Regions from separate parts of the Homo sapiens genome. Here region 1 is linked to region 2. The links come from fine-mapping of genetic effects on gene expression. A gene starts in region 2. The other region holds a variant in brackets. All regions are shown on one strand. Distances are from middle to middle. Region 1 holds the start of LOC124902603 (a long non-coding RNA gene). Region 2 holds the start of IFITM5 (interferon induced transmembrane protein 5).

Region 1 (8,321 bases), 360 kb after region 2:
CTCTCTCGCGTGGCTCTGCAGGGGTGTGGAGGGCTCAATAATAGAGGAACTGTGGACAGTCTCTCTTGCGTGGCTCTGCAGGGGTGTGGAGGGCTGAATAATAGAGGAACTGTGGACAGTCTCTCTCACGTGGCTCTGCAGGGGTGTGGAGGGCTCAATAATGGAACTGTGGACAGTCTCTCTTGCGTGGCTGTGCAGGGGTGTGGAGGGCTGGGAAGCACTGACCAGCAGCCCTCAGGGTTTCCGGCCACCAACTGTGGGGCCTCACATGAGAGCACTACCTGGCCATGTCACATGTGAGCCTTCTGCAGGGTCTTCACGGAGCCAGGCAGGAGCCCCGGATTCCCAGAGGGAGGGACAGGGAGGGGAGTCAGGTGTGGCACCAGGAGCACAAGGGGAGGGAGGGCCACCCAGGGGTCTTCGTAGCGAGGGAGGAGGCGGGGGCACTGAGCCTGGTGTAGGTGAGACCTACCTTGCGTTGGCAGAAGGTGGAGCAGTAGTTGACCTTGTGGCAGCCGGTGCACTCGCTCATAGCCTCCCGGCCGCAGTTAACGCAGGACTGCTGCAAGAAGGACACAACAGGCCAGTCAGTGACGTGGCCGTGGAGAGCCCCTGAGACACCGGGGACAGAGGCAGGTGCAGGCAGGAGGCCCCAAGTTCCCCCCATTGGACCCCCTTTTTTTTTTTTTTTTTTTTTGAGATGGAGTCTCACTCTGTCGCCCAGGCTGGAGTGCCGTGGTGCGATCTCAGCTCACTGCAACTTCCGCCTCCTGGGTTCAAGCAATTCTCCTGTCTCAGCCTCCTGAGTCTGGGATGATAGGTGCCTGACACCACGCCCAGCTAATTTGTGTATTTTTAGTAGAGACAGGGTTTCACCATGTTGGTCAGGCTGGTCTTGAACCTCTGACCTCGTGATCCACCTGCCTCGGCCTCCCAAAGTGCTGGGATTACAGGCGTGAGCCACTGCGCCCAGCTCCCATTGGACTCTTGACTGCGCCTCTGCCCCAGTGCTGCTCAGAACGTTCTTGTCACCTCCAGAATCAGCTCTTTCCTGGCCTCAGTGCAGTTTGCCCCCTACATTCATTCACTGGAAGACCAGTATGGGCCGGGAGCAGCGGCTCATACCTGTAATCCCAGGACTTTGGGCAGCCGAGGCGGGTGGATCACCTGAGGTCAGGAGTTCAGCACAGGCAACGTTGCGAAACCCAGTCTCTACTAAAAATACAAAAATTAGCTGGGTGTGGTGGTGGCCACCTGTAATCCCAGCTACCTGGGAGGCTGAGGTGGGAGAATAGCTTGCACCCAGGAGGCGGAGGTTGCAGTGAACCGAGATTGCACTACTGCACTCCAGCCTGGGTGACAGAGCGAGACTCCCATCTCAAAAAAAAAGGGAAATCAGGGCCGGATGCAGTGGCTCATGCCTGTAATCCCAGCACTTTAGGAGGCTGAGGTGGGCGGATCACGAAGTTAGGAGATCGAGACCATCCTGGCTAACACGGTGAAACCCCGAGATTGTACCATTGCACTCCAGCCTGGGCGACAGAGCAAGACTGTCTCCAAAACAAACAAACAAACAAACAAACAAAAACAAAGGGAAATCAGCATGGAAATCTTTCTCCAAACTCCAAGGAGCTTCACTCCAGCCAGGCCAGCACAGAAAATCAAACTCAGGAGTCCACCGCTCCCAACACTCCTGAGCAGGGCTGTGGGCATCAGCCTGGGCGCACCGTGGCAGGCATGTGTCCCAAACTGCTGCGGCGGTGCCCCAGCCAACACCCCCACGGCCCCACCTGAGCTGGTTTCTGTGGTGGATTGAAAAGATGCCACCAGAGGTTTGTGTACTTTCTCCTGGAATTACATTATTGGAGCTTTTCTTTTTAATCAGCGCATAGGTCAACATGCTGTCAATGATTAATGTTTGCGGCATGACTAAGGTGCTTGACAGTTGTGAGCTCCGCCGTCAATGCTCTCTGAGACGGAGAAGACCACTGGGCCTAGGAGAGGCCTTGGCGCCGCGACCTGCACGCCCGCTATGCGCCCAGATCATCCGCAGCTGCGGGAGGGGCCGTGGCCAGTGGGTGAGTGGCAGCGTCTGTGAGCAGCACAGAGCAGCACAGGAAACGACTCCAGCGCGGCCCCACGGCCCCTGCACGCGTGCAGACCTGCTCCGAGGTTCTGTTCTGATGCTTGCCTCCCTCCTTCGCAAACGTGATCTTTAACATTTTTCCAGTTGTAAGACATTCAGAGCTCCGACATTCAGTCACTCACTTCAGAAAACAGGAGCATTAGGAGGAATTTTGGTGCTAATTTAGGTTGCCCCCTGCCTCTACTTTATTTATTTATTATTATTATTATTTTTTTGAGATGGAGTCTCACTCTGTCGCCCAGGCTGGAGTGTAGTGGCGCAATCTCGGCTCACTGCAACCTCCACCTCCTGGGTTTAAGTGATTCTTGTGCCTCAGCCTCCCCACAGCTGGGACTACAGGCACGGACCACCACGCCTGGCTAATTTTTTTGTATTTTTAGTACAGATGGGGTTTCACCATATTGGTCAGGCTGGTCTCGAGCTCCTGACCTCAAATGATCCACCTGAGTCGGCCCCCCAAAGTGCTGGGATTACAGGCATGAGCCACCGCGCCTGGCCTGTGCCTCTACTTTAAATGACAAACTTTTTTTTTTTTTTTGAGATGGAGTCTCGCTCTGTCGCCCAGCCTGGAGTGCAGTGGCACGATCTCAGCTCATTGCAACCACCACCTTCCAGATTCGAGCAATGCTTCCACCTTAGCCTCTCAAGTAGCTGGGATTATAGGCGCTTGCCACCATGCCTGGCTAATTTTTGTATTTTTAGTAGAGACGGGGTTTTGCCCTGTTGGCCAGGCTGGTCTCGGAAACTCCTGACCTCAGGTGATCCGCCTGCCTTGGCCTCCCAAAATGCTGGGATTACAGGCATGAGCCACCAAGCCCAGCCGACAAAATATTTCTTAAAAAGTCTGTAACCACAGAGAAGCTTCTCGAAGGAGAACACAGCTTCTGCAGGCTTTATTAACATTCTGGGTTGCTCTGTGGATGGCCGGGCCAGGCAGGACCCTGGTCCAGCCCCTCACAGACAGAGGTCAGGTGGGGTGGGAGGCTGGCGGGAGCGTGGTCACTGTCCCGGGGAGCGGCCCCCACGCTGAGAAGGGCACGGGTCTCCGTGTCCAGCAGTCCCTGTGCACCACACACCAGGACGTCCTGTACTTGCCCCCCAGCATAGTTCCTGGAGGACAGCACCCCTGAACTGAACGGGAAGCCTGTCCTGTTGCCTCGCAGGCGCCTCTTCAGCCTCAGCTGGGACTTTCAACCACTTGGGCCTTTCGCGGTATGCCCTTTGCAAAACTTTTTTTTTTTTTTAAACTGAAAAATAACGTTCTAGGAAGGTTAGAAGGAGCTTTGGGGTCTGAATTAGAGTCA[G/A]AGGCAGTAGCATGAACTCATGTTCTCTTCACAGATACAGAAGTGGCTGCGGAGATGTTCATACACACAGGTGACACCCTCATCCCTGCTCTGCAGCTGAACAGGTGACACCCTCGTCCCTGCTCTGCAGCTGAGGGCCTCCACGTGACAACATCCCAGCAGCACCGGACCCACCTGGCACCCACCTGGCACCCAGGCCTCACTCTCTAAGACTTCCCAATAAAAGGACCTGGGGCTCCCTGCCTGGCACCCAGGCCTCACTCTCTTAAGACTTGCCAATAAAAGGACCCGGGGCTCCTTGGAGAAGGGGCTGATTCCCGGGCCAGGGCAGGGAATGCAAGAGGAGGCTGGAGCACCCTGCAGTGCCAGGAAGTCAGGACGTACCCCAAAATGAAAAGTCTGTTGAAAGGGGTGCATCAGGGGACCCAGGAGCCGACGGCAGGAGCTCCCTAGGGCCAAGGACAGATGGTGTGCTTCACAAGAAAGTAGTGTTGCCTTCTAGCTCAGAGTTTAAAACACATATAAAATGAGCCCATCCGGATACAAACAAATGATCAAATAAATAAATACAAGTCCAAGCTATTCCAGATCCTCCCGTCTAGGAGAAGCCCCCCCACGGCCGTGGACTTGCTGCCTGACTAAATGTGCAAAGGGAGAAGCAGTCCTGTCACCAAGGAGACACCTACAGACACCTGACTCTGGTGAGGAAGGTCAGAGCTGTCTGTAATGTCACTTGGATGTCAGGGACGCCACAGTGGGGTGAGACAGGCGGCAGCACCCCTCCCTGAAACCTGTCGTCCACCCCCACGAGAAAGCACAAGACAAGCCTGGATCGGGGCACCTGGACAAACTGCCTGGCCAGGCCCTCTCAGAACTGCAGGGCATGGAAGACAAGGAAAGACTGAGAGACCGTCACAGGCCTGAGGGTGCTGGGCAAATGGTGCACGGGAGGCTGTCTCCCACAGGTGGCAGCGGGGACAAGGTCCTAGAGCAGAAACAGGACATTGATAGTGAAATTCAAAGTCCGGAGTTCACAGGGACACCCAGCGACGGTTTCTCAGCTACAACAGCCATGCCCTGTGGGCTTTGAAGTTACAGAGGGGAGGCTGCGGAGTGGCAGAAGGGACCCTCTGCGCTCACTTTGCAACTTTTCTGTAAACCTAAAATTATCCCGAAATACGTTTATTTTTTAAAATAACCATTCATTAGCCGGGCACGGTGGCTCACGCCTGTAATCCCAGCACTTTGGGAGGCTGAGGCAGGCGGATCACGAGGTCAGGAGATCGAGACCATCCTGGCTAACACGGTGAAACCCTGTCTCTACTAAAAATACAAAAAAATTAGCCAGGCGTGTTGGCGGGTGCCTGTACTCCCGGCTACTCGCGAGGCTAAGGCAGGAGAATGGCATGAACCCAGGAGGTGGAGCTTGCAGTGAGCCGAGAACGCGCCACTGCACTCCAGCCTGGGTGACAGAGCTAGACTCTGTCTCAAAAACAAAAACAAAAAACCATTCATTACTGCGGAAGAGGTGTGTGTGCGTTGCAGAAGGTTAGGACAAGACACCGCGTTTCCGCAGCCAAGGACATCGACAAGTCCCATTCTGCGCTTTCAGGAAACTGTCAGGAAATCACAGGACTGCGGATGGCACAAAGGGCAGAAGTGCCCAGGCCTGCCCAGGCGCCCCAAGAAGCTCATGCTGCCAAGCAGCTGGCATTGCCATTAGCATTCAGAGTTCTCTGGGCCGCAGGCGGGCAGAGGAGGAGACTGCAGCAGAGCACCCTGCGGGGAGTCCCGCCCAAGCAGCGGGTCCAGCCCCTCAGCAGAGACTGCGAAGGGGTTTCCTGGCCTGCCTTCCCTGCTGCAGGGGCCCCCCATCTGCACATCACACAACAGGAACACACCTACTTTTGGCAATGCAATAGCTGGTGTACTCTGGTCCAGGTGGAAAAAAGCCTTGTGAATCACATATGCTGGTTTCATTATAATTGATTTTTAAATTAGACAAATTACAGATAACAAAGCCACTCCTTCAGAAACAGCCAACCAAGAGTAAGACCATAAGATCACATATAAAATGCCTATTAATTTCTAACTATCAAAGAATAAGTTAATAATGTATTCATTATTCTTTCTGCAAATAAAACTAAGTCTAACTTGAAAACCTAGATACTGGCCAGGCATGGTGGCTACACCTGTAATCCCAGCACTTTGGGAGGCCGAGGCGGGAGCATCGCTTGAGCCCAAGAGTTTAAGGCCAGCCTAGGTGACATGGCAAAACCCTGTCTCTACAAAAAAAAAAAAAAAAAAAATTAGCTGGGCATGGTGGCATGCACCTCTTAGCTACCAGAGAGGCTGAGGTGGGAGGATTGCTTGAGCCTGGGAGGTGGAGGTTGCAGTGAGCTGAGGTCACACCAGTGCACTCCAGCCTGGGTGACAGAGGGAGAACATGTCTCAAATGATAAAAAATAATAATAAAAAAGAAAACCTAGACACACCCCGGATGGAGATGAGGCTGTGGTTGGAGGCAGCCTGGTGGATCGTGTATCTTACAAGGAGTGCTTTCTTTATGACTTATTCTTAGAGGATGTAATGCTGCCAGGAGCCTCGATGGAGCCAACTCCGTGTCACCATCACTCCTGAACCAAATGGGGCCACAGGCCCACTGTGCACAGGGGCCTCCGCCTGCTTCAGGGGCCAGGTGATTGGAGGGCGAGTTGGCCTCGGGGTTCAGAGCCGCTGGGAGAACCCTGAGTAGCCTTTGCAGATCCGCTCCTGGGTCTAGTTCCAGAGGCTCCTTTCCCGGCACTGCAGTGAGTTCAGGTGAAGCAGCCGCCTAATTCCACAGGCCCGGCCTCCTCTGGAGAGACAGAGCGGGAGAGGGGAGAGTGAGCAGGAAGCCAGCGGTAGATGGGGCTTCAGGAGAACCTGCTGGACCCTGAAGCCGTGAACCGGAAGCTGGGGAGTCCCAGCGTCACCCTGCATGGAGGCTGAAATACAAAGTCCCCAACACAGGGCAGGTGGGGCCAGGTGGGGCTTGGGCAGGCAGGGCCCAAGGGGCTGCTGCTGTGCACCCTTGAGGTCTGCCCCCGGGACCACTGTGGCTTCACCAATGCCCACCATGGGGCAGAGGGCTCCCCATGACTGTGTCCCGTGAGGGCGCAGCAGCTCAGCTTAAAAGTAAGAGAAATGCAAATTAGACTGGATTACTCTCCCTCGAGGAAGCAACGGAAATAAGAGAAAACCCTCAAAACATCAAGCAGGTTTATCTGAAAGCTGAGCCGCACACGTAAAGAGATCAAAGGATTAGTCTAATAGCATCTTTTTGAGCTGGGACAGAGTTTGCCGTTTCTATGAAATGACCATGATACAGATCTCTGAGGAAGCATCAGACAAATTCAGATTTACAACCTGTCCCCGCCCCTGCCCCAGAAAGCCCACACACCTCATCCCAGGTCAGGCAGGGTCCCCCTGAAGTGGGACTGCAAAGCCACCTCTGTGCTTTTCCCAGGCTGCCCCGCCGGCGCCGCCTCACCCCGTCCCGGGCACCTGGCCGCCCCTCCCACCACAACACCCCTGGCTCCCTCGGGGGACTCCAAGCCTGCATTTCCGGGGGCTTCCACGCTGCTGGGGGGTGCTCTGAAGAGTTCCCTGGGGACACGGGGATGGCGGGCTGCTCCCGAGTATCCCAAAGACGCCAGCAACCCTCGCTCACTGGGCCACGGCAGGACGTTGGTCCAGTCCGGCTCTGGAATCTGATGTTTGATGCGGAACAGGTGACTGAGCTGTCTTGGGTCTGGCCGGGCCTATTTGGCTCACGTGAGTGTTAGGCTGACACTGGAGAACAAGGCAGGCAAAAGCCTTCATTTACAGAAACCCCATACCTGGACTTCAAGGAAATGTCACTGAAACACAAGCCCCTCTCGGCGCTGCTTGAGGCACCCGCGGCCTTACGGTGTTGGGAGAGGCCCCCGCAGGGAAGCGGCTGCTCTGGGGTCTGTCTCCACCCTTCCAGATCCCCAGGCACGGAGGCACCATCCAGGCACAGCACAGACCTATTTCTGAGCTTCCTAGGAGTCAAGGACATTGTTACTGTCCAACTTACGTATTCTTCTCCCTTTCATACCCTTCTGTGCTGTACTATATTTAACACTTTAAAAGGAAGTTAGGGAGACTGGAGAAAGCCTGAGAGCGAGCTACTAGAAACGGGGACAGGCTAGAGGAATGGGGTTTGCGCTCAGGGCAGCATGGCCAACAACAAGCCGGGGCCAGGGCAGTGAGTCCAAGACCCTGCAGCCACTCGGCTGGCTTCCACTGGACACTGTGCCCTTGACAGCCAAGGGCATCTGCTTTTCTGCCTTGTTGAATCTCTGCAGAGCTCATTACATACACACGAATGCAGATTTCCCATGGTTAAAGCTGGCAACAATCCCCTTAATAGCTTCAGCTGGGCTACATTTGATTTTTTTTTTTTTTAAATTCCAGATAAAAGGCCAGGCACCGAGGCTCATGCCTGTAATCCCAGCACTTTGGAAGGCCGAGACAGGTGGATCACCGGAGGTCAGGGGTTCAACACCAGCCTGGCCAACATGGTGAAATACCGCGTCTACTAAAAATACAAAAATTAGCCAGGCGTGGTGGCAAGCGCCTGTAACCCCAGCTACTCGGGAGGCTGAGGCAGAAGAATCGCTTGAACCTGGGAGGCACAGGTTGCAGTGAGCTGAGATCGCACCACTGCACTCCAGCCTGGGCAACAAGAGCGAAACTCCATCTCCAAAACAAACATTCCAGATACAATGTGGAATCGGCAGCGTCACGCCTGCCCTCCCACTGCTGGAGGCATGGGTGCTCTGTCAGGGTGCTCATGAGCAAGG
Region 2 (8,300 bases):
ATCTTTCAGGCAGCTCTAGGGTCTGGGGGCCAGGATGCCTGGGTCTCCCAAGGCCTGTCTGCTGTCTCTGCCACCCTCAGCGGCTGCCAGAAGCAGCGTGTGGGGGAGGCATGTGCTGCAGCACACCTGCGGCCGAGACCAGCACTCAGAGGTCGGCTCCCCTGACAGGAACCGTGTAGGGTGCAGAAGGCTGAGACCTGTGGACACTGCGTGTTTTATGGCAGCTTGCTTGCTGGGGCTCATGGCCACAGTGGAGAGGGGCCGTGGGTCAGGGCAGCCCAGTGTGCAGTCCAGTGCCGGGCAGGAGTCTTGCAGGGGCTCATGACCACAGTGGAGAGGGGCTGTGGGTCAGGGGCAGCCTGGCGTGCAGTCCAGTGCCGGGCAGGAGTCTCACAGGGGCTCGTGGCCACAGTGGAGAGGGGCTGTGGGTCAGGGGGCAGCCCGGCATGCAGTCCAGTGCCGGGCAGGAGTCTCGCAGAATGCAGCCTGACGCCTCCACGTGGCTCCCCCGGCCCCTACAGGCTCCCTCAGCTGCAGAGCTGGGTCCCATCCGACGCTGTCGCTGGGCAGCGAGAGGCAGAGGCAGGTTCCCCGAGGGAAGCATGGGCCCCTTCTCCCGGCCACGGTTGCCCCAGCAGGAGTTCATCTTTGCAGCCCCAGAGCCAGGGTGATGTGGGCACAGGTGTCAAGTCAGGGTGGTCGGTAGCCTTGCGCCCGCAGGAGAGATATGGCCTGAAGCCTGCTGCACGTGCGTGCCACACGCGTGTGGGGCCACCTCTGCACATCCTGAGGTGACCCTTTTGGGGGGGTCGTGATGGTCAGTGCACGTGTGCCGGCAGGGCTGGTCAGGGTTCATCGCCTGCCCAGGAGCCTGAGCCTGAGGCAGGGAGGTGCTGGTGACCGTTCCCCCAAGGTGGCTCACCCACAGCACCGGGAATGGACCAGGTCGTCCCTGCCCCTCAGTAAGCCTGGGGACTGGCAGACCGTCTCTTTTCTGGGGACACGTATCCAGCCACACATGGGCTGACCCCCTCCCAGTCTCTGCACCCGACACAGTTTGATCCCTTCTCAGGCCAATCCTGAGGCTCAGGGCTGGCACACTGTCTCTATCCCAAGGCAAGCACAGGTGGGCACACTGCCCTTGTCCTTGGTCCACTGTGGGACTGGTCCTGTCTGTCTCCAGCGCCCAGCATGGCCTCCACACACCTCTGCCTCCAGGGCTGGCTGGGCCTGCCCTCAGAGTCCCTGCCACGCCAGCCGTTGGCTGCAGGCATATCACAGATAGGGGATGCTGCCCAGGGCTCCGAGTAGACCAAAAGATTCCTGCCCACAGCCCAGGAAGAGCAGGCAGGCAACGGCGATTCCCCGGGAAGGGAAGGGCCCCGGAGTGGGGTGCTCAGAACCCTGGGCCACTGTGCTGTTAACCACCACCTCCCGGCAATGGCTGGCCTCAGCGAGGCCCCAGGGCCTCCCCGCAGCCTCGCAGTGTGCATGTCCCTGGCCCTCTCCCATCACCAGGCTGTGGTGGGTGTGTGGGGAGGCTGTGGTACACAACGCAGGTAAAATAATATGAGAACATGCACCCAGCACCAGGGGACTCAGAGAATGTTGCACACATGCCCATTTTCTGCCTTTCTGGATATAGTTTGGTTGGGGTGTGTGTGTGTGTGTGTGTGTGAGAGAGAAAGGGAAGCTGCTATCCTTCCCACATGTGTTTGTGTGTGTGTCCAGCCCCACCCATGGGATCGTCCCCGCCCTGCCTTTCTAGCCACCCTCACTGGCCCAGGAGGGAGGGAAACCACCGTGGGGACTGGGATTTCTCAGAATTAAGGGGGCACGCAGGGTCATGGGGACAGACAGAATGACCCAGAAAGGAAGGAGGTGTACACCAGACCGCAGATGGAGCCCACCCACAGGCACGGACTCTCACGCAGACTTCGAGCACGCACACACATGCGCACAGAGAGATGGGGTGGACACACGTGGGGTTGGGACGCACCCATGATGTTCTGGAGCACAGGCCGCTAAACCACAGAGCAGCAGAGATCAAAGGCCTGGGCTCTCAAACTTAGTCTAAAATACTCTGGGCCTCCGCCCCGTAAGCCACAGGCCGCCCAGTGGCTGAGAGAAGGGGACAGTTGGGGCCAAGCAGGGCTGCTGAGCTGCGGGGGGCGCTCCCGCCACTGACTCTGGGGGCTGGCCCTGTGGCATTTGGCTTTGGTGGTCCCTAGGGCAGCTCCTTCCCCCACGCTAGGCAGGAAAGAGGCCAGGAGGCACTTTCTGGAACCAGGCACTTTTAATCGTGGAACCGAGGGGCCTGGAGTGTGAGGAGGGAGGGGCAGGATCGGGGGCAGAGTTAGGGCCCGGGAACTCTCGGGTTAGGGTGAAGACCCCGGGGTCTGACTGGTTCAGCCTTAGGTGCCCATGTTGGGGCTGGAGGGCCCCAGGATCAGGATGGGGCAGGGATGGAGGCCCCACAGAAGGAGGGCCAGGCTCCGGGGAGTCAGTATTGGGCCCCAGGGGCAGCAGCCTGGGGTCAGTGTCCTGGGGCTAGTGCCCCAGATCAGGACCCAGCCTGTCAGTCATAGTCCGCGTCATCAAACTTGGTGCTGAAGAAGGCGGCAGAGTCCTTGGCCAGCCGGGCCAGGTGCAGGGCACCAGTCACCACCAGCCCCAGGAGCAGCAGTGGCGGCACCAGCGTCCACATCGCGGCCAGGATGTTGTAGCACTTGGCTTTGGAGCCAAAACGCCGGGCCGCTTCCAGGTCACCAACCACCTTCTGATCTCGGGCCTGCAGAGAGACCAGACCACAGGGCCAGATCTCTATGTGTCCTCGGGGCCTGGGGGCCCTTCCCCACCCACACCCTGGGCACCTGGAAGGCCCCTACTGCACCCAAAATCTGGATGGAGGGGTGTGGCCTGAGGAGATACTCCTTGGGGCCCCAGCTATGGACCCGGGGGCCATCCCAGGCCAGTGTCAGCCTATCAGAGCTCTCTATGGGTGAGGGTCCCCCAGGGTGCTGAGACACCCCCCACCCTGCCAGCCAGGAGCTGAAGTCAAAGGGACCTCTGTTCCAGAAGCCCACAGCATGTGAACCCCCTCTTGATTGCAGAGACCTCTGTGGGTGCCTCCCAATGGCCTCTGTGCTCTTGGATGGGCCAGACCCCGTTAAGAAGAGGCCCCCCGGCCTTGCCTTCGTGAGGAGCTCTTTCCCGGCCATACTGATAGCTGTGCCCACAGAGCCCCTCACGGACAAGCAGAGCCCCCCGCGGCCCCCAGCACGGCAAGGACCCCCCACGGAGCTCCCCATCCCTCCCCCTTCCCCCCACCTTGATGGAGTAGTGGAGCCTCCCCCGCAACCTCGGTAGGGCCCCTGCCCACCTTGATGGAGTAGGCCAGCGCCAGGAAGCCGAGGCAACACAGATTCAGGTAGAGGGTGCTGAACACCGACCAGATCAAGTGGTCTCGAGGCGGGGGGTGCGGGGCCCCCAGTGTGAGGGCTGTGTGGGCACCGGCCTTGCTGGGCGTGGGGGCCCGGGTGTCCTCGCGGGGATACGCCGTGTCCATGGGTTCCAGCGCCGTCTCTTCCACACTCAGACTGGTGCTGGGAGGGTGGGCACCCGCTCACTTATAGCCCTGTCGCCCTCCCGGCCCAGCCCCTCAACGCTATATATAACACAAATTACAGCCTGCGGGCCGAGGGTGCGGCCCGCCCCTTAGCCCCCACCCCAGGGAGCCCCTGTCCGAGGCTGCCTTGGACCACCCAGCAGGGTCCCTCCTGACAGACATCCCATCTGGGAGCCCCCCGCTTGGAAGGCTACGGCCGGGCAGTGGCAGAGACCCCCACCCATCCCCCCACCCCCATCAAAGGCTGCTGGCCAAGTGGGCAGTGGGCAGACCACTGGCCAGAGCCCCCTCCGTCCAGGCCAAGAAGAGTTGGAGGTGTCGCCTCAGGGCCATGGGCCTCATAATTCAGGGATGTACAGGAGCCCCCTCCTCAGAACCAGAGCTGCTGAAACTGCAGCCCCTTCATTCCCAGAACTCAACTCTGCCCCTAACACTCTCAGAGCACCAGCGCCAGGCCCTAGGAGCGCAGGCATCCCTGCAAGGGGGACAGGGAGGGCGGCTGTCGGAGGAGGGCGCGAGAGAGAAGGAGAGAACCACATGGGGGGAAAGCCAGGGGGTGCAGCCTGTTAGGAGCCGGCAGGGGAACCCCCAGGGACCAGCAACAGCTGTTAACACTGGTGTCGGGATGCAGGGAGCCTGTGGGCTCCTGTGGTGGACACTCCCCTCAGCCTCCTCGGCTGCCCTCCCTGATCCCAGAATGTCTGTGGTGAGTGGTCCTGTTTAGGGCTCAAGGTCCGCCCCAGTCTTGTCTCTGGCTGTAGATGCCTGTGTGTGCTGACGACTCACATTTATGTCTTCAGCCCAGACTTCCCCCCAAAGACATTGGCTTGGTCCCCAGCTCTGGACACACACACGCAACTCCTGCTCTGTGGACCTCCACCCACGTGCCAACAATAGACCCTGGATCCTCCCTCCCAACCTCCTCTGCCAAGCCTTCCCCGGAGCAGTGGTGGCAACTGCACCGGGCCAGAAGGCTCAGCTTCCCCGTCTCCCAGTCGGCCACACTCCTGAGTGCCCAGGACCAAGCTGCCCTCCCTCCTCCAGGACGCACACTCGCCACCTGCAGGGGATGGTTGGGTGGGGGGTTCCTTGCTGCTGTGCTTGAGCCTGTGAACCCCAAATATCTGAGACAGGTCTCGGTTAATTTAGATTATTTTGCCAAGATTGAGGATGTGCCTGTGACAGCCTCTGGAGCTCCTGAGGATCTGTACCCAAGGTGGTCGGAGCACAGTTTGGTTTTATACATTCTAGGGACACAGGAGACATCAGTCAACATATGTAAGATGAACATTGGTTCAGTCTGGAAAGGCAGGACAATGCAAAGCAAGGCAGGGAAGACTCGAAGTGGGGAGGCGCTTCCCGGTCGCAGGTAGATAAGAGACAAAGGTTGCATTCTTTTGAGTTTCTGACTTGCTTCTCCAAAGGAGGCAACCAGATATATGCATTCACCTCAGTGAGCAGAGGGGTGACTTTTTTTCTTTTGTTTTTGTTTTTTTTTTTTTTTTTGTGAGACAGAGTCTCACTCTGTCGCCCAGGCTGGAGTGCAGTGGCGTGATTTTGGCTCACGGCAACCTCCGCCTCCCGGGTTCAAGCGATTCTCCTGCCTCAGCCTCCCGAGCCGCTGGCACTACGGGCTCCCGCCACCACGCCCGGCTAGTTTTTGTATTTGCAGTCGAGACGGGGTTTCACCATGTTGGTCAGGATGAAAAAAGCTAACTCTGTAAAGTATTTAAAGAGGTTTGTCCTACGCCGAATATGACTGACCACGGCTCATGATACAGCCTCCAGAGTTCCAGCAAACGTGCCAAAGGTGGCTGGGCTACAGCTTGGTTTTATACATTGTAGGGAGACAGAAGTTGCAGGCAAAGACATAGATCAATACAAGTGTCAACGAAAAGAGTCCAACTCTGCGAAATATTTGAAGAGATTTATTCTGAGCCAAATATGAGTGACCATGGCCTGTGGTGCGGCCCTCAGGAGGTCCTGAGAACATATACCCAAGGGGCTCAGGGCACAGCTTGGTTTTATACATTTTAGGGAGACATGAGGTATCAATCAAATACATTTAAGAAATACATTGGTTTGGTCCAGAAAGGCGGGACAACACAAAGCTGGGGGTGGGGGGGGTGGGGGGAGGGGCAGCGGTGTTCCAGGCTATAGGTGAGTTTAAACATTTTCTTGTTGACAATTGGTTGAGCTTGTCTAAAGACTTGGGATTGGTAGAAAAGGAGTGTTCAGGTTAAGATCAAGATTGTGGCCGGGTGCGGTGGCTCATGCCTGTAATCCCAGCACTTTGGGAGGCCAAGGCGGGCAGATCACAAGGTCAGGAGTTCGAGACCAGCGTGACCAACATGGAGAAGCCCCGTCTGTACTAAAAATACAAAATTAGCCAGGCGTGGTGGCGCATGCCTGTAATCCCAGCTACTCAGGAGGCTGAGGCATGAGAATCACTTGAACCCAGGAGGCGGAGGTTGCGGTGAACCGAGATCGCGCCATTGCACTCCAGCCTGGGCAACAAGAGCAAAACTCCATCTCAAAAAAAAAAAAAAAAAAAAAAAAAAGGGCCAGGCGAGGTGGCTCACGCCTGTAGTCTCAGCACTTTGGGAGGCCGAGGCGGGTGAATCATGAGGTCAGGAGTTCGTGACCACCCTGACCAACATGGTGAAACCCCATCTCTACTAAAAATACAAAAATTAGCCAGGCGTGGTGGTGGGTGCCTGAAATTCCAGCTACTCAGGAGGCTGAGGCAGGAGAATCGCTTGAACCCGGGAGGCGGAGGTTGCAGTGAGCCAAGATCAGATCGTGCCATTGCACTCCAGCCTGGGTGACAAAGCGAGAGACTCCGTCTCAAAAAAATAAATAAATAAAAAATAAAGATTGTGGAAACCAAAGTTCTTTTGAAGTCTTATAGTGGCTGCCCTTAGAGACAATAGGTGACCAATATTTCCTATTCATATCTTAATTAATCTCTTCAGGATTGGGAGGGTCTGGAAGAAAAAGATCTGGCTATGTTAACTGAGATTCTTTACAGATGCAAATTTTCCCCCACAAAGAACAGCTATGCAGGGGCCATTTCAAAATATGGCAAAGAAACATGTTTTTGGGGTATTTTGATTTTCTTCCTTGTTTCATAATGTTATGCCAGAGTCAGGTTGGAAAGTAAGTCACGATATATAGGGTTAAATAAAACTCATCTGGTTGGCCGGGCATGGTGGCTCATGCCTGTAATCCCAGCACTTTGGGAGGCCGCGGCAGGCAGATCACCTGAGGTCAAGAGTTCGAGACCAGCCTGGCCAACGTGGTGAAACCTGTCTCTACTGAAAATACAAAAACAAAACAAACAAACGAAAACCAAAACTCATCTGATGAGAATTTACCATTTGTAGGTAAATTCCCCAGACCCCTTTGATAGGAACTTGGGCAAGATAAAAAAGTCAGAGTTTAGTCCTCACGAGTAAGGTGTACATTGCTTCTGCCAGGAAAGGCAAGACATCTCAAAGGGGTGTGGTCACAGGTCACAGTGATACCAGTGGGCTTGGGGAGGTCCCCAATTGCCAGTGGGACCTGGACCCCCACGGGTGTCCAGGCTCTTGGCACAAGAAGAAAATTCAAGGACGAGACCGAAAATAGTGAAAGTAGGGAGATTTGTTGAAAAGTGAAGGCCAGGCGCGGTGGCTCGCGCCTGTAATCCCAGCACTTTGGGAGGCTGAGGCGGGTGTATCACCTGAGGTCAGGAGTTCGAGATCAGCCTGGCCAACATGGCGAAACCCTGTCTCTACTAAAAATGCAAAAATTAGCCGGGCGCGGTGGTGCGTGCCTGTGATCCCAGCTAATCGGGAGGCTGAGGCAGGAGAATCACTTGAACCGGGTAGGCAGAAGTTGCAGTGAGATGAGATCGCGCCACTGCACTCCAGTCTGGGCGACAGAGCGAGGCTCCCTCTCAAAAAAAAAAGAAAGAAAGAAAAAAAAGAGAAGTGAAAAGTACACACTCAAGAAAGGGCCGTGTGGGCGGAGACTCGAGAGAGTCACTTGCAAGGGGTTTGGGTGGGGGTTCCATCTTTCAGGGTTTCTTTCACCAAGCGGGGGAGTATCATGAAGATTCTTGCAAGAAGGTGACGATTTCTCAGAACTGAGGTGCCTTGCATTTTTTTTTTCAAGACAACATAGAGGGTCTTTATTGGATAGCAGCTGAGAGACCATGCCTCAGTCCTCTTGAGGGACGCCTTTCCCCCCGGCGTACCACTTCTTTCCCACGTTTCCCTTCTCTGCAGGCTACAGCTTGATGCAAAAGAAAGGGATCGTCCTACAGGTCCTTATACACAACCTTTGAGGGCACAGTTTGGAGGTGGAGTGGCAGAGGACATTTGTAAAAGTGGGACAGCAAAGTTTCACTGTAGCCCACGAGGAAGTAGAACTTGCGGGCAGGCAAGTGCCTCGGGACCAGGGCACAGATCTCCAACCGGTTGGCCCAGCACTGTAAAACCAGCGGGTCAGCCAGGCAGCCCGGGAAGGCACCCCACATGAACTTGCGACGGAAAGCATCCTCCACCGTTCGCTCCGCCGCATGGTCCTCCCCACCAGGGTTCCCCGCGTGAGCGACCTCTGGCCCTCACGGCGGGCGACGAAGTGCGGCGCGTGTGCGTCCTCATAGGTCACCGGCTTGTCCCCCTGG

Evidence for each region. PIP is the estimated chance that this variant, and not a neighbour inherited with it, causes the effect.
Region 1: its variant is fine-mapped to the expression of IFITM5 in minor salivary gland (GTEx, PIP above 0.99).

The regions. Positions count from the first base shown.
Region 1 is chr11:653,490-661,810 of GRCh38, forward strand. It overlaps DEAF1 (DEAF1 transcription factor), which reads right to left. Exons shown (of 12, transcript NM_021008.4): 11 at 473-562. LOC124902603 (a long non-coding RNA gene) reads left to right here and starts at 1,534. Exons shown (of 2, transcript XR_007062543.1): 1 at 1,534-2,078; 2 at 3,485-5,615. The variant G/A (reference allele first, on the strand shown) is at 3,451.
Region 2 is chr11:295,923-304,222 of GRCh38, forward strand. It overlaps IFITM5 (interferon induced transmembrane protein 5), which reads right to left and starts at 3,604. Exons shown (of 2, transcript NM_001025295.3): 1 at 3,383-3,604; 2 at 2,278-2,791. The coding sequence starts at 3,568. The coding sequence ends at 2,579. PGGHG (protein-glucosylgalactosylhydroxylysine glucosidase) reads left to right here. Exons shown (of 14, transcript NM_025092.5): 14 at 1-185. It also overlaps the pseudogene MRPS24P1. RefSeq lists an enhancer at 2,775-2,934.